Regions from separate parts of the Homo sapiens genome. Here regions 1, 2, 3, 4, 6 and 7 are each reported to be linked to region 5. Evidence: microRNA targets listed by miRTarBase, many of them from high-throughput screens and not tested one by one. Region 5 holds a microRNA gene; each other region holds the end of a gene's coding sequence. Distances are from middle to middle.

Region 1 (3,000 bases), 2.6 Mb from region 5:
TTGGGAGGCCGAGGTGGGTGGATCACAAGGTCAGGAGTTTGAGACCAGCCTGGCCAATATGGTGAAACCCCGTCTCTACTAAAAATACAAAAAAATTAGCCAGGCGTGGTGACACACGCCTGTAATCCCAGCTACTCGGGAGGCTGAGGCAGGAGAATTGCTCGAACCCGGGAGGCGGAGGTTGCAGGGGGCCAAGATCGCGCCACTGCACTCCAGCCTAGGCAACAGAGCAAGACTCCGTCTCAAACCCCACCACCCCCGCAAAACAAAAACAAAAACAAAAAAACAACAAAAAAACCCCCTGTAACTAACAAAAGAGGAACCTGTTTTAAATGAACCCGTTTGCTTGTCAATCACTAAAAATGAAGTCTTTTTATAAGTATTTTCTTTAAGTTACAATATATAGAAGGCATGTGTATATGTGTGTATATATATATATATATTTCTTAAAAGTGTTGATTGGTGAGAAAAGAATAATTCCTTGGTTAACTTTTCTCATTCTTGTTCTGTTTAAAGAAGTGTTTTGTCTGTATTTTAAAAATGGATTAGAAAATAATGGCCAACATCTCTTTAAAACCAGAAAAAATCATTTTACAGACATCTTGGCATCTATACTCTGTTTTGTCTAATAAACTTTAAAGTTATTTCTCTCCTTATACTTTTTTTTTTTTTCGAGACGGAGTCTCGCTCTGTCGCCTGGGCTGGAGTGCAATGGCATGATGTGGGCTCAATGCAACCTCCACCTCCCGGGTTCAAGCAATTTTCCTGCCTCAGCCTCTCAAGTAGCTGGGACTACAGGCCACCACGCCTGGCTCATTTTTGTATTTTTAGTAGAGATGGGGTTTCACCATGTTGGCCAGGCTGGTCTCGAACTCCTGACCTCAGGTGGTCCGCCCGCCTCGGCCTCCCAAAGTGCTGGGATTACAGCGTGAGCCACCGCGCCTGGCCTCCTCTCTCCTTATAAACACATTTAACCTGGGCGTGGTGGCTCACGCCTGTAATCCCAGCACTTTGGGAGGCCAAGGTGGGCAGATTATGAGGTCACGAGTTCGAGACCAGCCTGGCCAACATGGTGAAACCCCATCTCTACTAAAAATAGAAAAAATTAGCCGAGCATGGTGGTGTGCACCTGTAATCCCAGCTACTAGGGAGGCTGAGGCAGGAGAATTGCTTGAACCCAGGAGGTGGAGGTTACTGTGAGCCAAGATCACGCCATTGCACTGCAGCCCGGGCGACACAGTGAGACTCCGTCGCAAACAAGCAGACAAACAACACTGAGCAGAGCATATTCTTAAAGGTTCCTGGTAGGTCTTATATCTTACTCAGTATTCTCAGTCAACCAGAGGTATTAGTTTACCAAACGTGGAGATTAATTCATGCAAATTTATGGTTATTAATGTATCCAGGCCAGGGAGTACATTGTTCAAATCGGGATTAGTTTTTAGATATTTTGTTGTTTCACACGGTTGGCAATTAAAACATATTTATACACTAATTGCATTAATGCAAACTCCATCAACCCAAACCTTTCTAACTATCCTTTTTGAAGTCTGCCCATGCAACATCAGCGAGGCAAGCAGAAGCCCTGGGCACCAGGTGGGAGGGGACTGCCCTTCAGTCCATGGTAGCCTAGGCCCCTGGGAGCACAGGCTGGGGCAGCGAGAGGGTGGATGCTTCCAGACAGACCCTGACTCCCTCCACATGGCTGCCTGGATGTGACACAGGCCCAACCAAAGCTATGGACAAAACCCCCAGCTCACTCCCACAGGAGGGGATGGCTGGTTAGGAGACTGTTTTTTGAGGGTTGGTTTCATCATTTTAAGCAATGTGTTGATGTTTTAAACATCCTATCAACTCTTTGAAGAAAGTAAACTTATGGATCCAATCACAACATGGATGTGGAAGGGGCGGGAGGCCCATACCAGTGGGCTTCTGCCTGCTGTGAACACAGGGTGATCAGGTGGAAATTCATTTAACAGTGACTTCCTCCACATGTCTTTAGGAATTCGAAAGTGTGGAGAAAGTGAAGCGCCTCTGAGCAAAGGCACGGGAAGGGCCCACACCTGTGTCTACCTCAGTTCCAGCAGGGAGCTGATGCCTGTCACAGGGGCAGCACTACTGGAGAAGCATCCAGCAAGGTGCGGCTGAGGTGGGACCAATTCTCAAAAAAACTACGATTAAAAAAAAGATGTTCTCTTTTGCCTTTATTTCTTGCTATAGTGGGAACGTGAGTTCTGCTACCTGGGGCTGAGTGCACTGGGCAGCAGGCCCAGCAGACGGGGCCTGCAGGGGGAAGGCACGGCTGGAGGCCCGTGCGCACCGCCACTCTCCTGGAACCGCTGCTGGCCGAGCCACAGCCCTGCGGAAATTCTACTGCGTGTGGCAGAGACCGATGTGCAAAAGGTTTCTGGTGAATGTTTTATGGAAATTGCTCCAAGCACTAAGGAAAGCGGGACCGTGCCTGTGCTGACCGTGGCCTTGCGCGAGCGCCTCCCGGCGGTGCTCTCTGGCTCTCTCCAAACAGGACGCTTCCTTCTCTGATTCTAAGGAAGGCCTGAGACAGCCCTGAAGGCTTAATGTACAGTGCGGCCAGGTCCTGGCACTGCACGCAGGATCTTTGGTTAGCTGCATCCATATCGTTTGCACGAGAGCTGACGGCACAGACGCGTAAGAGGCGTGCACGGCGGGGAGCTGGGGACAGCAGCCAGAGCATGGGGCCACCAAGGCCAGAGAGTTCTGGAGAGATGGTGTAGAATCAGGAGACCCGCTCCATCCCTCACAGAGACCAAGGAGCCCGAGCGCCGCGTCAGCGCTTGGCGTACGTCCTGCTGGAGCTCTTGCTCAGTCCGCCCTTCGGGGTGGGGATCTTGCTTCCGGCCTTTGACCCCAAGGGGCCTGATGCGGCCACAGCTGAGCTTTTCCCTGCAGAGCAAGCACAGGACCTGCATTAGGAGGGGCACTCCTACCCACGGACCAGGTGCAGAACCTGTGGCCACAGAC
Region 2 (3,000 bases), 2.7 Mb from region 5:
CTGACTAGAGATACCTGATGTATAACTTTTTGGAGGTTTTTACAAAAGCAGATACAGTGGCCAGTGGCATCAAAGAAATGGAATGAGAACTTGAGCCCAGGCACCCGGAGCAGGTATTTTCTGAGCCCTCAGCTCCCTCTACAGGCCTTTCCTGACCACAGCCAGTCCATCTGGGGAGCCATGTCTCAGCTCTGGCTTGGGTACAGCAGGGAGGGCTCCAGAGGCCCCTGCTGAGCAGGGTTGATCCTAACACTATTCCTCTGTGGCCTATATTGTCTTTTCTCTTTTACCTGTTAATCATGTTCTCTTTTGCAGCAAGCAAATTCCTGAATTTTCGCTCCCTTCTAGAAGCTCAAGTGAGGGTCTTTACCAGAGACATACCCAGAGATTTGCTGTAACGTCTTCAGGGGAATCCAGAATTCACTTACAGAGGCTATTTCTGCCAAGTGGCTTTCCCTGGAGCAGCCCAGAGCTCTCTTTCAATCCTAAGGGGATGTCTGTCTCACTAATTTCCATCAAGAAATCTGTTTTCTTGGACAGGCACAGTGGCTCATGCCTGCAATCGAAGCATTTTGGGAGGCTGAGGTGGGTGGATCACCTGAGGTCAGGAGTTCGAGACCAGCCTGGCCAACATGGTGAAAACCCGTCTCTACTGAAAATACAAAAAATTAGCCGAGCATGGTGGCGCATGCCTGTAATCCCAGCAGCTTGGGATTGGGAAGCAGGAGAATCGCTTGAACCTGGGAGGCGGTGGTTGCAGTGAGTCAAAATTGCACCACTGCACTCCAGCCTGGGCAATAGAGTGAGACTCCATCTCAAAAAAAAAAAAAAAAAAAAAGAAAGCGACAAAAAGAAATCCATTTTCACAGGAAACCAAAAATGAGCATTTTGGACTCAGTCTGCTAAATGATTATTCCTTTCCTGATACAGATTTTGGTTTTGAGAGTCAAACAGGGATCGGCAGCACAGCGTGACTTCGGTTTTGATTCAGAACCATTTTACTAGGCTCAGAAAATCATGCTTTGTCGAGTTCTGATGGATTCCAAGGGAAATCACCTATCAGGTAAAGCTGTACTTTCTCTCACCAAGACCCTGGAGGTAGCATTTCCACTTCCATTCTTTGCCGATGGCTCCTGTGACTGAACACAGAAGCTGTTTTCTGAAATAAGACGAAAGCGTTTGTGGAAGACCCACAGAATAAAAATAGAGATACAGGTGCTTACTTTCAATTCTTTTCTTTTAAATGTAAATAATCGCTCCATGCTCCATGCCGCCACTTACCTCAGCTGAATACAAAACAGCTGAATCCTTTTGAATCCTTTGTTTTTTTCTTTTTTTGAGACAGGGTCCTGCTGTTGCCCAGGCTGGAGTGGCAGTGGTGCCATCCCAGTTCAATGAAGCCTCAAATCCCTGGGCTCAAGGGATCCTCCCGTCTCAGCCTCCTGAGTAGTAGGGACTACAGGCACGCACCACCACATCAGCTCCGGGCGACAGAATGAGGCTCCTTTTTTAAAAAAAAAAAAAAAAAAAAACTGACTCTGAAGCTTAAAACCTTCACCTTTAGGAAGAAATCGTATTTGTTTGTTTGAGACCGAGTTTCACTCTTGTTGCCCAGGCTGGAGTGCAATGGTGTGGTCTTGGCTCACCGCAACCTCCGCCTCCCAGGTTCAAGAGATTCTCCTGCCTCAGCCTCCCAAAGACCTGGGATTACAGACGTGCATCACCATGCCTGGCTAATTTTTGTATTTTTAGTAGAGACAGGGTTTCACCATGTTGGCCAGGCTGGTCTTGAACTCCTGACCTCAGGTGATCTGCCTGCCTTGGCCTCCCAAAGTGCTAGGGTTACAGGTGTGAGCCACTGTGCCCGGCCTGAGGAATCGTATTTGGATTACTCATCTCTCCGGCCACTTTACTTACAAAAAACTAAACTAAGAAGTAAATAAGCCAGAACCCCTCCCTACTCATCCCCTTTGGTCTCCCCAAGAAGAGGAGGATTCTAAGAAAGGAGCTGGAGAGACAGTGGGGTCTTCGGGGGTTCCCTGAGACGCCTCTTCCTGCCCTTGTTCCAGCTTTGGAATTGGAAGGAGGGAACCTGTGTCTGAAGTGATTGACAGGTGGGGACAGGAGTGTGGATTCTGGCCTGTGCTTGACACTCAAACCCAAGCTACGGCAAGGGTTAGCAGCCCATGGAGGGAGAGGCCAGGAGGCCCGGGGAGACTGCTGTCCCTGAGCAGCTGCGCCGGGCTGTGCTTGCCCCTGGTGGTCACCATGCAACCTCAGGGGAACCTTCAACCTGGTGAATGGCAACTGGTTCCTCTGTTGAGCAAAGTCTCCAAGGAAAGCCGGGTTCTCCAGAGAATCTTAACACCCTGACCAGCCGGGAATCTGCTCCATGATGTGTGGATGGGGACACATCTCTGAGGGCCCCTGACAGCTTATTTAATCACACAGAGGATAGGTGCACAGATGTGGGTCCCTCAGATTGTAAACAGTGCTGTGTGGTCCTCAGGACATCAAGGTCCACTGGGTGGGGGCACTGTGGCCACAGCTGTGGGCCACCGGCTTCCCGAATCTCACTGCTACCCTTATGCAGATGAACGCCCACCCGTGGGCCAGGACGCTGGTACCGGTGGAACTTGCTGCCTGAGGATCTAGGAGGTAGAAGAAGCTGAGTTGGCAGCTGCTCTCCCAATGGAGCCGAGAGCATCAATAGCGGGGGCTTCTGGTGCAGCAGACATGCACTTCTGCCCCTGCAGCAGGGACTCACAGAAGTGCCTACCCCCAGGAAGGCAGCACCTATGCACAGAACTAGAAAGGACAAAAGCTCAGGTGCTTGGAAGTTCCCCTGGGGTCCCTTGGGATTCCTGAGATTCTCCTGGCTTGGAAGGCGCGGGAGCCTTGGGAGTGCCAGCCGGGCTCTTGGTGGGAGGCTGAGAAGAGCAGCAGCAGCAACAGAGAGAGAAGAGCCGAGTTCGGACGGCGCGGGTGCAGAGGACGAAC
Region 3 (4,204 bases), not on the chromosome of region 5:
GCGCTTGTGCCGCTGGGGAGCCAAACGATTGGGAGTTGCCTCCACAGAGGCCCAGAGAGGTAGGATTATCTCTTTTTACTCTTTTACCTCCAGAATGGCTGCCGTCTATTATTCCCAGACCCCACTCCGAGAAGCAACTCCAACCCTCTCGGGTCTTTTCCTTCCCCACCTGCCTTGGTCTTAAGATTCCAAACCTGTGATACCATTTGGTTTCTTTAAATTCCGGGACTTACTCAATCCGAGTTTTTCAGCTCCGTGAGCTATCCGTAGTAAAGCGACCTCGCGACTCTCTTGCCCGCTTGGCATTCTGACTCTTCCCTAGTTGCTCGTGTATCATGGCTGCCTGCCTCATATCTGAATATATCACCAGCCCTAGGGTTCTAGCCCCTGTTATTATCCCGTCTTTTTGCTCTGCCCGCAGGCGTCAGTTTCAAACTGGAAGAAAAAACCGCCCACAGCAGCCTGGCACTCTTCAGAGATGATACGGGTGTCAAATATGGCTTGGTGGGATTGGAGCCCACCAAGGTGGCCTTGAATGTGGAGCGCTTCCGGGAGTGGGCAGTGGTGCTGGCAGACACAGCGGTCACCAGTGGCAGACACTACTGGGAAGTGACAGTGAAGCGCTCCCAGCAGTTCCGGATAGGAGTGGCAGATGTGGACATGTCCCGGGATAGCTGCATTGGTGTTGATGATCGTTCCTGGGTGTTCACCTATGCCCAGCGCAAGTGGTACACCATGTTGGCCAACGAGAAAGCCCCAGTTGAGGGTATTGGGCAGCCAGAGAAGGTGGGGCTGTTGCTGGAGTATGAGGCCCAGAAGCTGAGCCTGGTGGATGTGAGCCAGGTCTCTGTGGTTCACACGCTACAGACAGATTTCCGGGGTCCAGTGGTGCCTGCCTTTGCTCTCTGGGATGGGGAGCTGCTGACCCATTCAGGGCTTGAGGTGCCCGAGGGCCTCTAGTATGTCCATTACTGGAGTCCCTAATCACGCCTTTGGCCAGCCTCCTTTTGAAAGTGTCCGAAGCCTTTTTACTTTGCCTCAAGCAACCTCTAGCTCCCACAATTCAGTGTTGGGTCCTCTGTGCAATATCATGATCATCTTCCTCATCCCCTACCTTGTGAAAGCTAGGCATACAGCCAAACCCTCCTTTTCCCCACCCACCAACTACTGCCAATTTCCTAGGCTACCATGGGTGTATCTTCCTTGACCTGCTTCCTTCAGTCCCTCTGCCTCCCTTTGCCCAGGCCTTTCTCAGACTGTATTCCATCCTGGGGTCTTATCATTCAGCTTTGTTTGAATTTATTAATCACCATGATACCTCTCCCTCCCTTTGTCCACATGTAACTTGTTCTTGGGGCTCTACCAGATGGCTGAAGAGTAAATCCTTTCTACCTCTGGCTGAAGGAGTGGTGCAGTCAATGACTTGGCCCTTTTTCTACAGCACATTTAGAGTTTGGGCTCTGGCTCCCTCAGTAAGTGCTTTATTAACTCAGTGTGTCAAAATGAAAACAGAGCCCTCCTTCCCCAGTAGCTCAGTGCCACAGACCTTCAGCCCCACACAGCTGTAGCTATCCTTACCCTGAGTCCATCTACCTTAAATCTGTACCTCTGACACCCAGCCAGTCTGTCATAATCATTATCCCAGTTATAACCTTGACCAAAGGGGAAGAGAGACACTTGGGGGATATCTAGGGGATGAGTGCTAGAAACTATTTATTTATTTTTGAGACAGAGTCTCACTCTGTCACCCAGGCTGGAGTGCAGTGGCATGATCTTGGCTCACTGCAAACTCTGCCTTTTGGGTTCAAGCGACTCTCGTGCCTCAGCCTCCTGAGTAGCTAGGATTACAGGTGTGTGCCACCATGCCCGTCTCATTTTTATATTTTTAGTAGAGATGGGGTTTTGCCATATTGGCCAGGCTGGTCTCGAACTCCTGGCCTCATGTGATCAGCCCACCTTGGCCTCCCAAAGTGCTGGGATTTCAGGCGTGAGCCACCACACCCGGCCAAAACTGTTTATTCTTGAGAAGTTCCATCTTCATTTCTGCCACAGTTGGAACTTCCCGAGGAAGGAAGGAGGCCTGAGGTTTTGCACAATCTGTTTCAGAGCCTGTTTAGACTCAAACCTATGCTTCCCTTGGCAGCAGAATACACTTAACCTAAAGCAGTATTTGGAGTTGAGAAAAACCTGGTGGGGTAAGTGAATATGTACTGTTTGGTAGGGTAGGTAGAGAAGCTGTGCTTTGACCCTGTGATTCCATCTTTTTCTACCTTCTATGATGGTGATGAAGCTAGATACCCCTAGGGAAGAAAGAAGGACTGGGTTTAGCAAAAATGATTTGGTAATTAAAGTTTATTTGAACACAAAATACTTTCTCTGTCTATAAAATTGGCTGTTAGCAGTAGCAGCAGCATGTCCTGGCCAAGGGGAGTAGATTTCTCCAGACTACTAAAGCCATGTATATAGCCATTCCCACTTCCCATATTCTGTGGATATGTACATGTGCATGGTAGCTAGAGTCCCTCCACCAGAGTATCTCTCTCATGATGGTTTCTTCAGGGAGAGGAAGAGGAGACCTGGGTGAAGAGCTGGGATGGTTTTGAGTGGGGCAAGCCATTAGGCTGTACCTTGAAGCCCAGTCTCTCTGGATAGCTGTACTGCAGGTGTCCTCTGAGGCCCTTCTCTGTACTCTGTCTGCTGAGGGAATGGGGTATTTTGACTCCCATAGAAAGCACTAGCCTAAGTCACCAAATGACTGCTTGGTCCCCACTGAAGCAGTGTAGCTCTCCATAGTATTTTTGGTGGTTATGGATTACATGTGTGGCCAGCTCATGCTTTTTCTTGAGCAGGGGCTGTCCATGACCTGTGCTCATACCATGCTTTCTAAGTTCTCTTTGGACAGGGCCTCAGCTGCTGCCTCAGCCTGAGTTTCAGAGAGTGTGTAGGAGTCCTGGTAATCTTGAAGCAGTTTGACCACCTCCAGATGGTTGAACTGCACAGCATCATCCAGGGGAATGTTGCCCCACCTGAGAGGAATAATGATATGATCAGGCAAAGGAGACGTGGAGAGTGGTGGTTGTATATATTTGCATGGTGGCTGGAGGGTAGGTGGAGAAGCTGTGCCCACCCTCCTCCACTTTTAGCCTATTCCTCACCTGTCCTTGGCAAAAGGATTCACTTTGCAAGCCTCGATCAGGAATTTAACAACTTCGATGTGTCCTAGGAATATGGGCAGAAGGAAAATGAGAAGGCGCAGGTCTTGAACCCTTTGGTGCAGACACTTAGCCACTGAAGTCTTTACCAAGAGGGGAGGGGAAAAGGCCTCTTCCCATTTTGTACCCTGCAGCACTCAGTCATAGTCTAGCTGCAAACCGAAGGGTGTCTAGATAAAACTAGTTGCTGCCCCTATAACCTTGAGGGCACATATAATGAAGGTACTTTTGGTGAAAAAGAAAGGGTCTTATGATTACCCTCCTCCTCCCCTCCTTAACCCTTCAGTACCTTCAGCTGCAGCAACATGCAGAGCTGTGCGCGAGTCATAGTCTTTCTGTTCCATATCCATGGCTGACAAGGCAAACCTGAGGGTAGTGGGAAAGCAGCTAGAGTTGCCTAGATCAGACTGGAATCACAGGTGTTCTTTGTGAACTGGTGTCAGACTGGATGAGTTTCAGAGAAAGTGAAACAGCCTATAGCCAGATTTGTTGGCTCTGAATAATCTTTTTTCCATATCCAGATGAGACTGTTATACTCATATTAGAGAGATGGGAATGTGATCCTTCCAGAAATATCACTCACTGCCTACCTGTGGTAAGTGCCCATTTGAGGCAGGGTACCTACTTCCTAGGACACTGCTCTTAACACTCAATAACAATGGCTAACATTAATTATCATAGAGCAGACAGTTTACTTTTTTTAAAAAAAATCTCCTTTTTTAAAAAAATTTCATTTAAATGCAATCTATATCCATTCTAATTCCAAAGCTGAAGCACTTAACTATTTTGTTACGCTGCCTCCTAGTAAAATCTCTGACCAGGAGTATTTTATTGTGTATATTTGGTCACAGTAGCATTACCTTCGAAGAGCTGAGACATCGCCACTATAGGCAGCAAATAACAGGTTGACCACAGTCTTGTTCTGGAACACAAATCATACCCACATGACATTAATTGAACTCACCTATGCCAGCTGTGCCCTGTGACCCTCC
Region 4 (4,204 bases), not on the chromosome of region 5:
GACCAAGACTAAGAGCTGCCTTAGCCACTTACTTCTACTGAGCCTCAATTTCCTCATCTGTAAAGTGGGAATAACACTTGCCCTGTCTACCTTACAGGATTGTCCTAAAGATCAAAAAGGATGGGAAAGCACTATTCTGATCTAAAGTACTATTTAATGTTAAAGGTACTCTAAATGCTACAGAGGTTCAGAGAAGAGAGGGCTCCGGGTGACTGGAAGAGTCTGGGAAGATCCAGCAGAGGGAGTTGGGGAGCTGGGAGTACTGAGTCATATGCTAAACCAGGTGCTGCAGTAAATAAAGCAAGATGGAAAAGTGCACATGCTGACCACTGCACCCAACACCGCCTCAAGCCTGGGCCACAGGGAGCTCCCACTGACCTACTTTCACCCACTAACTCCTCACAGTCTATGGAAGAGTAACACAGTGGGTCTCAGAAACACATACAGTGTTCACAAGTGCTTTACAGAAGACACAGAGCAAGCAGAGATGGTCTCTGTGGCAAGGCTGGCAAGAAGCTCAATTGCTGCAAAAGTTATTAACTCTGGGTTGGGGTAGAGGGCAATGGACTTTTTACCATTTTTCAGAGCTGACCTGTGAGGATGGCTAGATACTGCAAGAGGATGCCTGGAGGAGGGAGAGGTAAAAGAAATGAGCCAGTAATTTCTTGGGTAATAGTTTTCCTAGATAATGTTTATGAGCATTTGCTATGTACTTGATGTTTTCATACTTAAAAAAAATTAAACCTCACTATGATCCTATCAGGCAGGGACTTTTGTCCCCACTTCACAGATAAAGAAACTGGAGATTTAGAATTTGAAGCCAGGTTGGTCTGCTTTCCATAGCCCATGATCTTAACTGCAAGCTAAACTTACAGGGTCGTCTGAGAATCTCTGTTCTTCCCTGTGCAGTTGAAACAATCAATGTGGCTGTACTTTTGTTGTAAGACCTGGCTCTTTCCGACTCGCTGACGTTTGCCATGCTTGTCCTGAGCTTCTCCAGAGAAATGCTGTCTTCTGGCAGGAAAAGATAAAAACGGCTGATATAAATGAGTCACCACACTCGCTATAATTAACAGTGATGCAAGAGCCAGATGCAAAATAAGAGGGGCCTCTGGACCTGACTTTTAGGCTGCCCAAACTTTGAGCTGCACTTCAATGTAAAACAGTCTCCATAGCTAGGCTTCCATCTGTTTGAGACGCATTTTAAATGAAGAAATAAAACCCGGAATGCATGCAAGCCCCAAGATAATGGAGCTGAGAGGGGCTGCACCAAATTAATCTCCTTATTTACAATTCAAAAACCATACACCAGAACAGAAAGAGAGTTTATAGTTTATAGATAATATAGATCTTTGCTTTCACACTCAGTTGCCCTGGAAAGGCTGAGCAGTTTTCAATCTGCTGAGCTGATTTATAGCAAGTACAGCTGTAAATTCAATTGTACTAGGTGTTCAGCCTATGCCCTCCCAGTGATGTATCTGAACTTTTCAAAAGGACTAGTTGTCATTAACATCTCTCTATTTTCTTTTGCTGATCTGGGATGATGGGATGCAATGACAATCTGCTTAAAATAAACCTTAAAACCTTAAAACATAATCACCACATCATCCACAAACCCCATTCAACCACAGCATGAGCACAATCACTCTGTAACACAAGGTGAAGATATTCTCTGTTGCTTCTAGGACATATAAGTCCCTCCTGAAGTTTGACAGAGAGAAATAAATTGTGGTCAGGACCTGGATAGGCTCACTAGTAGCCGTCGATGTCGGTGGCGTCTTCTCTTACCTGTTTAAAAGAGGCTCAGTGGCCTTGAGATTTGAACACAATACAGCTGATGGAATCTTGCCACTTTCCTTTTGAATAGACTTTAATTGAGAGCAAAGTGAAAAATGCAGGTTACAATTTTAAGTGTTATCATCAATATCTTGTAAGATCAACACCCAGTGATGCATCTAGTACTTATACAGTCCTAATTTTAGTTGTCAAAGAGCAAATCATTATCAGACATATATTTACACAGTAATTTCAAGCAACGGTAAATAATAAATTCCCTCCCTTAAAAAACAAAACACAACACAACACACACACACACACACACACACACACACACACGACCATCTTTAAACAATGGATTTCCTCACCCAGTAAGTCTCATTTTTTTCACATATACTTGTAGACCCAAAGGTCCTTAAGTTACTTAAAAACAGTCTTATCAGTGGAGATCCTGGACCATCCCCTATTTTCTTTTAAAGTCACTTTCATTTTTACAACTTGAAGCCATATACCAGCATGGTTTTTATACACTAAGGACACTCCCAGTGATGAAAATGAATTCCCCTCCATTTGTGCAAGGAGGTATGTACATCTATAAAGACACATATGATTACCACTCAAAAGAGTCAAAAACATACACAAAAAAATCTCAGATCTTCATAGTTTCTTAAGAGCAGTGTGCCAGTGTTCACATTGAATTAACTGAATGGTAAAATTCTTTTAGATTTCTATACAGAGGTACTGGTTAGTTCTGATTTTTTCTTCAGCTGCTTGAAATGCATGAGCTTTAAAAGTTGCCTGGCAGAACTACATCCTGCTTTCCAGGTTAGCAGCCTGGCTGACCTCGGGAATGTTAGACAAGATTCACCCCCGATGCCTTGCTCTCTGATTTATTTCTTGCTGTTGCTGTTAGTAAATGGAAACCATGACAAAGTTTACATTAGCAGACACATACACATGCCCTGGCCTATAAATATTCCATGATAGAAAATGGTACAATAATTCCATCCCCAGCGAAAACGAGCATAAAAAAAGAAGGGAAGGGTCAGGGGGACATGATCAGCTATGGCTCTTCTTACAGTAGAAAATCCACACCAAATGGCAATGGGCTTTTAACTAACCAGACATTGTTAGCTGCTTCTCCAGGGCCTGTGAGTCAACTAAAAGTAGGCAGGGCAGAGACCAACTCTTCCAGGCACACCTGGTAGTTTCCAGAAGCACCGGTATCTTGTCTTGGAAGTTGGATGAAGAAGATCAACTGAAGTTTCCTTTTTAGTGAGGAGGAGTGGAGAGTCAGACTTGAAAGCAGTTCACACACTGTGCTGCCTGGGACACTGAACGGTCCCCGAGGGAGACCCCTCAAAGCGCCAGCTGGAGTTTGGTCATGTTTCTCTGATGCATGTTGTGATGGCGGACTAATTCATCTGACCGGGCAAACTTTTTCTGACAACTTGGCCACCGACAGCTGAAGGGCTTTTCACCTGTTGACACAATTGCCAGTCAGAGACACTTGCAACAAAGAGACAGGCACAAGTTCAACTATCAAGGCCCGAGTGAAGTCATCACAAGGCACCCACTCTGAATTTCCCATCATTCTGTCCCTGAGCTAACCAACTGAGCTCATTTCCCAGGCAGCCTTGAAACAGCAGCACCTCTTGGGGCTTTAAGGATCGAAATATTGTAAAAAGTTATATTCTTAGGTCAGAAAACTTGGAAAGTGGGAGATAAAGAATGAGTCAAGTTGGGGGAAATGTCTGAGCAATTCATAATTAAGGGGAAAAACGTTTGTTTCAGTCTCTGCTGATAGAATGTTTTGTGAACTGTGTAAATTTCTCCCCCTTGTTGAGTAAGTTGGGAACTGAGATGAACTGGGCTGCAGAAGCCTCTGGGTCATCTACCCTGGGTATTACTGAGTGATCACTGTCCAGGGATCTCAGCTGTGACTGAAGCTTTTAACACTTCTATCTGTGTAGATACCCTGGATGGGCTGGATACTTTAAAATAAATCACTGATACCAGTTTACATGTTATGTGTTGTTTTTTTTTTTCTCTTAAAGTGTTACTGAGAGCATAATCCTGTTATATGGAAGATTCTAGTTGGGGCGTGGTTCTTAGATTTTTAATAAGCTTGCCAAAAGATTGAGGCTTCTCCACCCAAAGAGCCCTCAGACATTCTTTCCAAGCCTCATTCTCATTAGGGAGAATAACTACCATTTATTTGATGCTTAACATATGCCAAGCCTTGTGCTGGGCTTCACACACGCACACACACAACCTCATGTACTCCTTACAACTGCCCGTAGGGGAAGCGTTATTATCCCCACTCTACAGATGAGGTAGGACATCTATTGAGGGCAGATCCAGGCAGAACTCAAATCTCCAGGTCTGTCGAATTCCAGAGCCCGTGCTCTTCCCTGTATCACACCTC
Region 5 (4,204 bases):
ATGGGCCACCTGTACAGGCATAGCCCGGCCACATGCCCAGCTAATTTTTGTATTTTTGGTAGAGACGGGGTTTCACCATGTTGGTCAGGCTGGTTTTGAACTCTTGACCTCAGGTGATCCACCTGCCTCGGCCTCCCAAAGTGCTGGGATTACAGGCATGAGCCACCGTACCCAGCCCCAGGTACTTTCCAATCCCATTCCAGTCTAGTCTGGTCGGGGGTAGGGGAGGCTTTCGGGGAAGGAGGCACCTGCTGAAGTTGATAAAATCTCTGGGCTAACTGGTTTTCCAGCTTGCTGTGACTGGCAGCACCCACGAGCCCAGGGGAAGAGCCTGGAGCCTCCTCACTCCCCAGCCTGGAAGCTTAAGCCTCAGGGTCCCAACTGATCCCCAGCTCCCTGACCCCCACAGCCCTGCCCAGCTGCTCAGGCCCTGGGGCAGCCAGAAGCAGGTGTGAGGGGGACAGAGTGAGCTCCTGGGCTCCAGGACCCTCCTGGGAGGATGGCCACCGGCCTTGGGGCCACCTGCTCTTTGCCCCTCCTCACTCTGCCCTGATTAGGGATCTGGACCCCTTGTTCCCCTCCATCAGCCACTGGAGCTCCTGCCGGGAGGGCCAATCCTCCCAACTCAATCTCCCTGAGACCCAGAGCCTGGGACTTGCCCAGCCCGGCTCCTGCCAGCCCCATGCCTCCCAACTGAGAGATGCCTTTTTTTTTTCTTTTTTTTTCCCCCTTGAGACAGAGTTTCACTCTTGTTGCCCAGGCTGGAGTGCAATGGCTCAATCTTGGCTCACCGCAACCTCCGTCTGCCGGGTTCAAGCGATTCTCCTGCCTCAGCCTCCTGAGTAGCTGGGATTACAGGCATGCGCCACCACGCCTGGCTAATTTTGTATGAGAGATCTCTTTTCTACAAGGGCTCAGAGGGAGGGTCCCGCGTGGCAGCAGCCCCTGAGGTCAGTGTGACAAGTCCTCTGCTTCTGGGAAGACTTGGCCCCATGAACGGGACAGACGGGGAGGTGTGGGGGACGTGCAGGACATTCCTGCAATCTCAAGCGCTTTCTGTTATAACACCCCAAGGTATAGACCTGGAATTAGCTGAGCTTCCCCGAGGCTGTCCAGCCTTCCAGCTCCTCTGCAGCGTGTCACTTCCTCGTCCCGTGGCCACCCACAGCCTCCCTGGCAGGATCGAGTTTCCCACCAGCAGGTCCGGGAGCCCTTCCTCCCTCAGTGCTCACCCACGCGCCAGCGAGAGAGCTGAGCCTTGTGAATAATTCACAACGATTCACAGCAGGCCCCAGAGGCTCACAAGAGCATGAAGCTGGGCCACCTGGGTCCCCTGATGGGGCCCTGTGTCCTGGGGCAGCTCAAGCCTCTGCCCTCCCCAGCTCCCAGCCCTCATATCCACAGCCTTGATGAGCAGGAATCCCTACCCCCAAGGTAGGAGGTTAAGTGGGTACCCCAGCCCCCAACCCCAATTCCCAGCTGCCCCTCCTGCGTGAGCCCAGCCTGGCAACCACACAAAGACACCTTCTTATCAGTCGAGTCACATGCTGCTGTGGGGAACGGAGCCCAAGCCCTCTGTCCACCTCCCTGAGATTCATGGTGACTCCTGGGGGGCTGGCAGCTCATCAGTCCAGGCCATCTGGCCACTGAGTCAGCACCAGCGCCCAATCACACACAGCACCTGGCATGGCCTGGGAGGGGGTCAGGGTCCCCCAGCCCCGGAGCCCTGGAGGGCGTTCCACAGCACAGCCAGTCTTCCTAACACCTGGGATCCAGCCCACGGAGGGATCACGGCTTCTCAGTGAGGAAGGCTCAGGGGCTGGCGGTCCCCACCAGCACTTGCAGAAGGTGGGCTCAGCGTCCTCCAGTTCACACTTGGGCCATATTGGTCCCGCCATCAGGGGCACCTGCCCCTCTCAAGACCTGTCCTTCTCCTCTGCTTGAAGTGAGGGGGTGGGACAGGTGCATCAGAATCACCGCCGTGAGGGTGGGGACATGTCCCAGGTGTGGCTCCCACGCCCCAACCTGGAGAGTCTAACTCAGGAATCTGGGACAGCCTCCAAGAGGTGCTGACAGGAGCCAGTTGGAACCCTCTACTCAAGGGTCCCTGGGGCCCTCCTAGTCTAAATCCCACTGACTTTGACATGATCCAAATCCTAGTTTGTTTGGAAGCAGTGAATTCATACCAAAGCTGCTCTCGTCCTGAGGCTGGGTCCACATTCACATTTACATCTCAGGCTCCCACTTAGACTAATGAGGGTCACCCATCAGAGCACCCCACTCCCCGCTCAGACCCCTGTGGCATCTGGCACCCTACCCTCTCAGACAGGCCCTGGGCAGCTTTCCCCAGGATCCCTGCCTCCCCAGGCGCACCTAACACCTGAGTCCCTCCCTCCCTCCCTCCCTCCCCAAGACTCACACATGCCCCCTGCTCTGTGTGACCCCCCACCCCACCCAGGGGAGCTCCCAGCCCACTCCCCAGGAGGTTTGGGATCCCCATGCTTCCCTTGATAGTAGGAACGGGCTGAGGGGCCACAGGAGATAACAAGATGCTCTCTGGATGGCCTCCAGCCAGGGGCTCTGGGGCCAGGAGGTGGGGTGGGGGTCTGGGAGGGGCCTTTCTCCCTTAACTGCTTGGTAACTGATGGGGTTCCCTTTCTGCCTGTTTGACTAGGGCCTAGGAGGCGCTCCTGCCCTTGCTGCCCCCGACTCCATCCTGAACAGTCTTGCAAATGAGCACAGCCTGAGCCAGAGAGAGCCCCTGCGGCAGAAGCAGCCCAAGGGGAACAGGTGACCTTGGCCTGTGTGCCCAGCCTCCCAGGTCCAGCTGTGTGCGGCCGGGCAGCTGAGGATGCTGGGAGCACCTGCTTGCAGGGCTCTGGGGGCAGCCCCAGAAGGGGTTTTCCAGGAGGGGAAAATTTCATGTTGAGTGGGAGCCATTTCTCTGGCCTGGCCCTCTGGCCCCAGGATGGCCACTGGAGGGATCATTGCCCTGGAGTGCCAGAGAGGCGTGGAAAATCCCAGGCATCCCCCAAAGCCCTGGCCCAGCCCACCCAGAGGACCCCTTAAGAGGGGTGATCTTACTCAGGGTAGTGCTCGACGAGAAGCCTCAGGGAGGGGAAGTCTCCTTTGGCGGCAGCGTAGTGGATAGGCAGGGCGCCCATGTCTGTGGCCGCGGTGGGGTCCCCACCGCCATGATGCAAGAGCCAGTTCACCACCTCGGGGTGGCCGAAGCGGGCAGCCAGATGCAAGACTGTGGCACCAGAATTGTCTTTGTCCTGTGGGAGGAGAGCTGGTTCAAGTCCTAAAGCCTGTTGCTGCCCCGCCCCTGGCTTGGGCCACTCCCAGACTCCCACAGGCCTGGAAGGTAGCTCTGTGCTCTCTGTCTTCCCTGGAGGGATTGGCCAGGCCTCATTCAGCAATGTTTTTTTTGGGTCAAGCGGATCCTGGGTTTGAGTCCTGCTTCTGTCCTTGGGCAACTAACTGGCCCTCTCTGAACCGTAGCCAATAGGCAGCACCGTGCAGGGTTTTCAGAGGCTGCAGGTCCTGACTGCGAGCTGCCTACACGACAGGCACCTGGTTGTCACGGCAGGAGACTGGCACCAGGCCCAGGGCCACAGCCCTGACTCCCAGGGACTCAGGGAATGCCTGAAGGAGTGACACAGGGTTACTGGGCTGAGCAGGGCCAGGAAGGGGGGCTGTGGGGCTGTACCAAGCTAGCATCAGGATTGGGGGTCACCCCCTGCATCCAACACTTGCCCCCGATCTCTCCACCCTTCCTCGGTGTCACGTGGGAACAGAGACCTCCACCTTGGTACGCCTCCAGGAACCCAACCTCAGTGCAGAAAACCGGCCCCTCCCCCAGCAGACTCGCCAGTGCCCAGCCACAGGAGCAGCCTGTGTTCTCGCCCCTGTGGAGGTGGAAGTTGCTGGGTACTGGTGGGCGGGTCCGGGGCAGTCAGCCAGGGGTGCTAGGTGCAGGCTAGTGGTGGCCTCTGGGAGGGCTTGGACAAAACTCCCCCCGGGGACCTCAGAGCAGGTGGGGCCAGAGGTCTGGGCCCAGAACTGCTGAATGTGTCATCAGTGCACACCCCATTGTGTGTGTCTGCTGAGAAAGGGGCTGGAGGGGAGTGCTTACAGGACCTGTGCTGGGAGGAGAATTCCCGGGAACATCTAGACACAGAGGCTGCCGCACTTGGCAGAG
Region 6 (3,000 bases), not on the chromosome of region 5:
ATGCTTTCTTCCTTTATACTTTGAGTTTATTTTGTTTTATATTTTAGGTATGTTCATATCTGCCTTATTTAAATTTTACTGCCTTGGGAAAGTGGGGCAATAGATGAAATAATTTTGAAATTATTCAAACATAAATCCACTAGATAAATAAGGTTTCCTTGATTATTCTTGATTGTTTAAAAAATATTAGCCTATAAGTGAAAGTACCCTTTAAAACACAGAAATGACACATATAAAAGTGATTATACCCTCACTGTAACATATATACATACATACATATATGTATGAATATATGTGGAATATATATGTGTAAATATATTCTAAGTGATTAGATTGAAGATTTCATCTTTATGTAAATGGAGAGATGCTGCACTGATTTGTGTCTTTTTCAGGAGGAGTCATCTAAGGCTTTGGGAAAGAACAAAAAAGTAAGAAAAGACAAGAAGAGGAATGAACATTAATACCTGAAACTATAGGAAAGGTTAATTTGCCTATAATTATATATACATTCCATAGTCATCAAGGAATATATTGTGCAGAGAGAGTATCCTTGACTGCTTAAGTCAGCCAGTTCAGCATGGATACCAACATTAGCTTTTCTTCTTGGTTATATCATCTGCCAAAAATAGAGAACTTATGATCTATTCATGTGTGTTTCAGGCTTATTTGGGAGAACTAATTTGAACTTAATCACCACTTCATCTAATTTTAGCAAGGTAACAGTTGCCCAGGGCAGTACCTGAATTAACTGTCCATTTCAGTACATGTCAAGTGCCTTTGTTAGGTGGAGAAGAAATGTCTCTAGAGGAATATAAATACCTGATTTCTTGTCATCGAGATTCTTGTACTGTTAAATGAATATTGCCTTTTACTGCTCTTTATGGCTTATTGGAATAGGAGCTCATTTAAGATTGATCTTGGAGAGTTTCTTCTTGTGATTTTAGTTCATAAGTATGTCACCTTTCATTTTATAGTGTTCATCATTGAGTAATGGATTAAGTGAAAATCCAGGAGTATCCATCTGCAGTTATGTGCTGAGGTGATAATTCATCCAACATATTTGTTAGCATAAATATTATGCTTCAGTTTCTGTTGCAAATTGGTGATTGTGAAATTACAGAAAGTGATTTTCTAGTCTGCTTTTTTTGTTTAATTCTTGTAATGTAAGCAATAAATATGGAGTGTCAGTAGTCTCCTTCCACCCCAGAAATGTGTTGGTGTAACATTCTCGTTTCTTTTAACAACCTGGAAGTACCTTTCTTGTGATCTTCACTGAGGAATTAGAACTATGATAGAAGTTAGGCTGTGGCAAATGGGACATTCGTAGAGTGGGATAGAGGTGGCAGAATGAACCTGGTGTAGGGCAGGAGTATGTTGTGTAGTTACATCAATTTGATGCATGCTTTCCATCTGCACTCCAGACGGCTTTCTCAGTTCCAAGATTTTGCAGAGAGAAGGAGCAAACCTTTTCATTGGAAAAACAGAAACAACCCTCCCCCCCATTTTTTCCCCTCTATTCATCAAACCTTTATGTATCTTTCATCTTCCAGTTACCTCTAGGCATTTAGATAGTGAAATTTACCTTTGAGATATAACAATAAGTGATTAACTGTTCACTTTCAGATGTAATGGCAAACAATTGTTAAAAGTTATTAACTGATCACAGATTTGCCTGGACTTCCCTTCCCAGGGAGGGAACAGAAGTTAGGAGGCAACTTTGGGATGGTGCTAGAGCATGGAAAGCACAGAGAATTGGACAAACAGGTCTTTTTCTCTTTTCTCTGATGTTTTACCTTTAAAAGATCCAACATCCTTACCGTTGGTATTTTTAGTAAGGTTATAGTAAATAGCTTTACACCAGGATGGATTCTGAAATATAAATTCTAAATTATATTTGTTATAACTATATTTTATGTTGTATGTTATCAGGAGCCATCAGAGAATGACCTTTTTGTGTTTGGAACACTTGGTTCCATGAAAAGTATGCTTTGTGTTTTAACTGTTAAAATAATTTAAAAATTAATTATTTTACATAATTAAAGAAGTTAAAAACTATTAACATTAAATAATTTCACAATTTCAACATGTCAAACCTATGAAGGGAGATAGGAAACAATGAGAAACTTACTTTTGCTCCTTTATACAGAATTATTAACTATATTTTACTAACTAAAAAACTCTAGTATTCTTTACCTAAAGTCAATTGGCTGGTAAGAGGGAGAGATGCAAAATTCTCCAGCTCTGAACTTGGAGCTACTTCACACTCTACTCTTAATGGAAACTTGAACTAATGATAGATAGTATTTTTTTCCTCTATTTAAAATTTTTGTCTTGATTAGGAGATTTTTCAGTTCTCCATATAATAATTTTCTACAATCAGATCTATGCTGTGGCATATTTTGCTTTATTTAAAAATTTTTTTTTAGAGATGAGTTCTTGCTCTGTCACCTAGGCTGGAGTGCAGTGGCATGATCATGGCTCACTGCAGCCTTGACCTTCCAGCCTGCCAAGTAGCTGGGATTACAGACAGGCATGTGCTATTACACCTGGCTAATTTTTAAAGTTTTTTTTGTAAAGATAGGGTCTTTCTATGTTGCCCAGGCTCGTCTTGAGCTCCTGGCCTCAATCGATCTTCCTGCCAAGGTTTTGGAATTACAGGTGTGAGCCACCATGCCTGGCCTGCTTTGACATATTTTATAGTGTGTTAATTACAAATAGTCTTCATATGCCAGAATATAAGAGCAAGTGTTATCTACTTTTTAGATGGGAATTGCAGAAGCTGCATCAAAAGTATGCTTTGAGGTATATATAGTGAAACAGAGCCTTTCTGAAGAGAATTATATCAAACTAATTACAACCAAGAAATAATAGTATGAAGCGGATGCTGTTTGGAGGACAGGAAAATTTATCGGGAAAATTACATAATCCCTCTGATTCCACTATCCAGAGATAGCCATTATTATTAATATTTGGTATGTACATCCTTATATTATTTTTTTC
Region 7 (4,204 bases), not on the chromosome of region 5:
AGCCAGGCATGGTGGTGTGGGTGCCTGTAATCCAAGCTACCTGGGAGCCTGAGGCAGGAGAATCGCTGGAACCCGGGAGGTCGAGGCTGCAGTGAGCTGAGATCTCACCACTGCACTCCAGCCTGGGCAACAGAGCGAGACTCCATCTCAAAAAAAAAAAAAAAAAAAGTGACTGAAAATGTGTCTGGTGATTTGGTTGCCTTCGTTTCCATTTTCTAAAACCCTCTTTGGGGTCCAGCCATGTGATGGCACTTCTTTTTCACATTGGTTCCCAGTTAGTTGAGGCTCTCCAAACCTGTCACCTCTCCTCTCCTCCCCAGGATGTCCTCGGCTGTGTCTGTGTGAACCCTGGGCGCCTTACCAAAGGGCAGGTGGGAGGCACCTTCGCCCGACTCTACCTTAGGAGGCCGGCAGCGGACGGGGCAGAGAGGCAGAGCCCATGCATTGCTGTGCAGGTCGTCAGGATCTGAGGCTTCTGTCCTCTGCTGTTCTCTGCTGTGTGGGCCCTTAAAGTCTTAGCCAAGAGCCAAGACATAGCCCTGTGACAAGGTGAACAGTTGGGTGGGAAAGGAGAGAGGAGCCAGCCAGGGAGGGGCAGCTGCAGTGACCAGGCCCAGCAGGGAGGACTTGTGCAGCCGGGCCTGCCTCTGAGTGGTGCCTCTCCTGGAAGGAAGCTCTTGCTTCTCAGTCCATGCTCCGTGTCCAGAAGTAAGCCAGCTGTGGATCCCGCCCACTCAGAAAAGGCGAGAAGGCTTTGTGATTTTCTACATGAATCAAACACAGAAACAACTTTTGGAGAAATTAAATTCTGAGTGTGACTTCTGAGTTTGACCTTTCTTCTATTTTCTTTTATTTATTTATTTTGTTTTTAGACGGAGTCTCGATCTGTCGCCCAGGCTGGAGTGCAGTGGTGAGATCTCGGCTCACTGCAAGCTCTGCCGCCCGGGTTCATGCCATTCTCCTGCCTCAGCCTCCTGAGTAGCTGGGACTACAGGCACCCACCACCACGCCTGGCTAATTTTTTGTATTTTTAGTGGAGATGGGGTTTCACCATGTTAGCCAGGATGGTCTCGATCTCCTGACCTTGTGATCTGTCCGCCTCAGCCTCCCAAAGTGCTGGGATTACAGGCGTGAGCCACCGCGCCCGGCCCCTTTCTTCTATTTTCTTTATCCTGGTAGTAGACAAAGAATGTTGCCTATTTGACCTATGTCCAGAGAAGGCAGAGTGTCAGTCACACTGGGTTTCTATCCAGCCCCAGTCCTGTCCAGTGGGTAACTCTCAGCCCCACTCCTCATCCCCCAAAGGCCCCAGTGACCTCTATGCTGCAGAGGTGCACTGGGTGGGCCCTAGAGCTGGGCTGCAGAGCAAGCAACTGGCTGCATGCCTGGGCCTCCCTGCGCAGTTCCTCACATGCATGCTGTGGTCCCAGCCTGACCTCTCCATCTGGAGGGGGCCGCCTCGCTGGGCTGTTCCAAAGCTGGAGTCCTGGTGGCAGCTGCTTTGCCAAGTCGCGCAGTAGCCAGGGCTTGCCTGCAGCCCAGAACACTCAGACAGGGTCAGGCCTTCCAGGGTTCACAGCACGTCCCATGCCCCTATGTCCTGGCATCTGGGGAAAAGCTGTCACTGGCCAGACGTGGAGTGGCTTCCTGCCCTAAGCTGGCAGGCTGTCCTGCCTCACATGCCAGAGCCAAGACCGGCAAACCCCAGCTGTCAGGGCAGGGAAGTGGGCAAGGGGGCAGCAAGCTGCTGGTGTCTATGCCTTGACTCCGAGATAAATAGATGACCTAACAGTGGCCAACTTTTGCCTCTCACCTTTCTGACGGTGAAATGGAATCGAGCCCCAGACCTGACCAGGGTACAGTAAAAGGTCTTCCTTTAAACACAAGGAGCAGCTGTTTTATTTCATTAGTTTTATAGGCACCTCCTCTGAGGCCAAGAATTAGAAACTCATCCCTGCGTGGGGAGTGGATTTTTCCGTTCTCCCCCAGCTCCTCCACACATGAAGCAGCCAGCTGTGTTCCACGGGGGCACCATGACTTGTCAGCCTCCGGATGTGGAATTTTGGGAGCCCAGGCAATGGTTGCCTGGATACCAGTCGTGTGACTGTTGGAAATGATCTGGGAGGGCCGGGAGGGCCGGAGCAGGCATTTAAGAGTCAGACAAAGAGAAAGCGGGATGCTAACACCAGAGCAGACAGGTCTGGCAGGCGTGCCTCTGCCACCAGACAGTTCCTTTTTGCTCTTGTCAGGAAGGTGCCAAGTGACTGCTGGCTGACCGTCCCTAGACCCCACTTCAGCTGTGTCACCAGTTTCCCCAGGCATCTGTCATCCCAGGTATTCTCAAGCAGGCTCTGGGGGCGTGTCAGTGACGGAGGGTGGGAGGGTGCCCAGGAGGTCAGGCCCGTCTGCCTCAGCCCCCTTTGGTGGCCTCTCCCTGATCTGGTCATGGCCCCTGCCCTTGAGACACCAACTAGACGGTCCTGAAGAAATAGTCCCGAGCTCTTGCCAGGATTTGCCTCCCATGCCCATGCCCTTGCCCTGCCTCTGCCCTGGCAGAAGGAGCCGCCCTCCCTTACCCGCCTCGTGGCTTCCCTTTAGGGTTCCAGTCTCTGAGAGGGAGAGGGAGAGCTGCTGAGGGAACAGAAGCCACTCCTAGTTGCTGTTCCTGGGAACCCAAGTGGGTGCCAAGAATGCAGCGAGGGAATTAGGGCCTCGAGGGGCACCCAAGGTTGGGGGCCGGCAGGGCCATGGCGCGGATCCTCCATCCAGCTCTGCCTTCTGCAGCCACTGGGGCTTGGGGTTTCCTTTCCTTTGACCTCAGGGCACCCGGCCCAGCTCAACCTGGCCTTGCTGCTTCACTACTGCTGGGAGTAGCCATCTGCGCTGATTTCTCACTCCACCAACCCCACCCCGACAGAGTCTCACTCTGTCGTCCGGGCTGGAGTGCAGTGGCGCGATCTCGGCTCACTGCAACCTCCACCTCCCAGGTTCAAGCGATTCTCCTGCCTCAACCTCCCGAGTAGCTGAGATTACAGGCGCCTGCCACCACGCCCAGCTAATTTTTGTATTTTCAGTAGAGACGGGGTTTCGCCATCTTGGCCAGACTGGTCTCAAACTCCTGACCTCAAGTGATCCACCCGCCTCAGCATCCTAGAGTGCTGGGATTACAGGCGTGAGCCACCATGCCCATTTTAAAGTGTATGATTCAGTGGTTTTTAGTATGTTCATGGTGTTGTGCAGGCCTCGCCACCATCTAATTCCAGAGTATTTTCATCACCCCAAAGGAAACCCTGCACCCATTAGCAGTCTAATCCCATCCCCTGGCAATCATTAATCTAATTTCTTTTCTGTAGATTTGCCTATTTTGGGCATTTTGTATAAATGGAATCATACAATACATCCTCTTTTTTTTTGAGACAGAGTTTTGCTCTTGTCACCCAGGCTGGAGTGCAGTAGCGCAATCTCGGCTCACTGCAACCTCTGCCTCCCGGGTTCGATGGATTATCCTGCCTCAGCCTCCTGAGTAGCTGGGATTACAGGTGCCTGCCACCACACCTGGCTGATTTTTATATTTTTAGTAAAGACAGGGTTTTGCCATATTGGCCAGGCTGGTCTCAAACTCCTGACCTCAGGGTTCAGCCTCCTGAGTAGCTGAGATTACAGGTGTGTCTAGAACTCCTGACCTCAGGTGATCCACTCGCCTCGGCCTCCCAAAGTGTTGGGATTACAGGCATGAGACACCGTGCCTGGCCCATGCTCTTTTCTGTCAGGTTTTGTTTGTTTGTTTTTTTGTTTGTTTCTGAGACAGAGTCTCACTCTGTCACTCAGGCTGGAGTGCAGTGGCACGATCTCTGCTCACTGCAACCTCCACCTTCCGGGTTCAAACGATTCTCCTGCCTCAGCCTCCTGTGTAGCTGGGATTACAGGCACCCGCCACCGTGCCAACTGATTTTTGTATTTTTAGTAGAGACAGGGTTTCACCATGTTGCCCAGGCTGGTCTCGAACCACTGACCTCAAGTGATCCGCCCACCTCGGCTTCCCAGAGTGTTGGGATTACAGGCGTAAGCCACTGCACCCGGCCTGTCAGGTTTGTTTCACTTAGCATGATGTTTTCAAGGTTTGTCCCTGCAGCAGCATGTATCAGTCCGCCATTCTTTTTTATGGCTAAGATCCCACTGTATGGCTATACGGTATTTTATCAGT

Evidence for each region. The annotated mature microRNA hsa-miR-4252 reads GGCCACUGAGUCAGCACCA and lies in region 5 at 1,642-1,660, shown strand. An mRNA with a match to its seed (bases 2 to 7 or 8) in the 3' UTR can be bound and repressed. Matches are read on the target gene's strand: a 7mer-m8 pairs with bases 2 to 8, a 7mer-A1 pairs with bases 2 to 7 and ends in A, and an 8mer does both.
Region 1: the mRNA of CEP104 is a reported target of hsa-miR-4252. Seed matches in the 3' UTR shown: 7mer-m8 at 202-208.
Region 2: the mRNA of GPR157 is a reported target of hsa-miR-4252. Seed matches in the 3' UTR shown: 7mer-m8 at 1,855-1,861.
Region 3: the mRNA of SPRYD4 is a reported target of hsa-miR-4252. Seed matches in the 3' UTR shown: 8mer at 1,762-1,769.
Region 4: miRTarBase lists WT1 as a target of hsa-miR-4252. The part of its 3' UTR that is shown has no 7-base or 8-base seed match.
Region 6: miRTarBase lists IMPACT as a target of hsa-miR-4252. Seed matches in the 3' UTR shown: 8mer at 2,462-2,469.
Region 7: miRTarBase lists POLA2 as a target of hsa-miR-4252. Seed matches in the 3' UTR shown: 7mer-m8 at 1,790-1,796.

The regions. Positions count from the first base shown.
Region 1 is chr1:3,812,596-3,815,595 of GRCh38, forward strand. CEP104 (centrosomal protein 104) reads right to left here. Exons shown (of 22, transcript NM_014704.4): 22 at 1-2,922. The coding sequence ends at 2,807. Among named protein-coding and RNA genes, the nearest start is that of LRRC47, 18 kb to the left of the region's middle.
Region 2 is chr1:9,101,594-9,104,593 of GRCh38, forward strand. It overlaps GPR157 (G protein-coupled receptor 157), which reads right to left. Exons shown (of 4, transcript NM_024980.5): 4 at 1-3,000. The coding sequence ends at 2,826. Among named protein-coding and RNA genes, the nearest start is that of GPR157, 26 kb to the right of the region's middle. RefSeq lists an enhancer at 2,506-3,000.
Region 3 is chr12:56,468,618-56,472,821 of GRCh38, forward strand. SPRYD4 (SPRY domain containing 4) reads left to right here. Exons shown (of 2, transcript NM_207344.4): 1 at 1-59; 2 at 422-4,204. The coding sequence ends at 960. GLS2 (glutaminase 2) reads right to left here. Exons shown (of 18, transcript NM_013267.4): 15 at 4,073-4,134; 16 at 3,502-3,578; 17 at 3,156-3,219; 18 at 2,335-3,026. The coding sequence ends at 2,870. Among named protein-coding and RNA genes, the nearest start is that of SPRYD4, 2.1 kb to the left of the region's middle. RefSeq lists enhancers at 209-258, 679-808.
Region 4 is chr11:32,385,923-32,390,126 of GRCh38, forward strand. It overlaps WT1 (WT1 transcription factor), which reads right to left. Exons shown (of 10, transcript NM_024426.6): 10 at 1,853-3,257. The coding sequence ends at 3,136. Among named protein-coding and RNA genes, the nearest start is that of WT1-AS, 47 kb to the right of the region's middle. RefSeq lists enhancers at 951-1,095, 973-1,321, 973-1,230 and a cis regulatory region at 1,015-1,032.
Region 5 is chr1:6,427,300-6,431,503 of GRCh38, reverse strand. MIR4252 (microRNA 4252) reads left to right here and starts at 1,608; the gene lies at 1,608-1,670. ESPN (espin) reads right to left here. Exons shown (of 13, transcript NM_031475.3): 2 at 3,085-3,278. RefSeq lists an enhancer at 2,827-2,946.
Region 6 is chr18:24,450,387-24,453,386 of GRCh38, forward strand. It overlaps IMPACT (impact RWD domain protein), which reads left to right. Exons shown (of 11, transcript NM_018439.4): 11 at 393-3,000. The coding sequence ends at 461. Among named protein-coding and RNA genes, the nearest start is that of HRH4, 8.8 kb to the right of the region's middle.
Region 7 is chr11:65,296,800-65,301,003 of GRCh38, forward strand. It overlaps POLA2 (DNA polymerase alpha 2, accessory subunit), which reads left to right. Exons shown (of 18, transcript NM_002689.4): 18 at 321-1,886. The coding sequence ends at 470. All of the region lies in intron 2 of LOC105369344 (a long non-coding RNA gene), which reads right to left. Among named protein-coding and RNA genes, the nearest start is that of CDC42EP2, 16 kb to the right of the region's middle.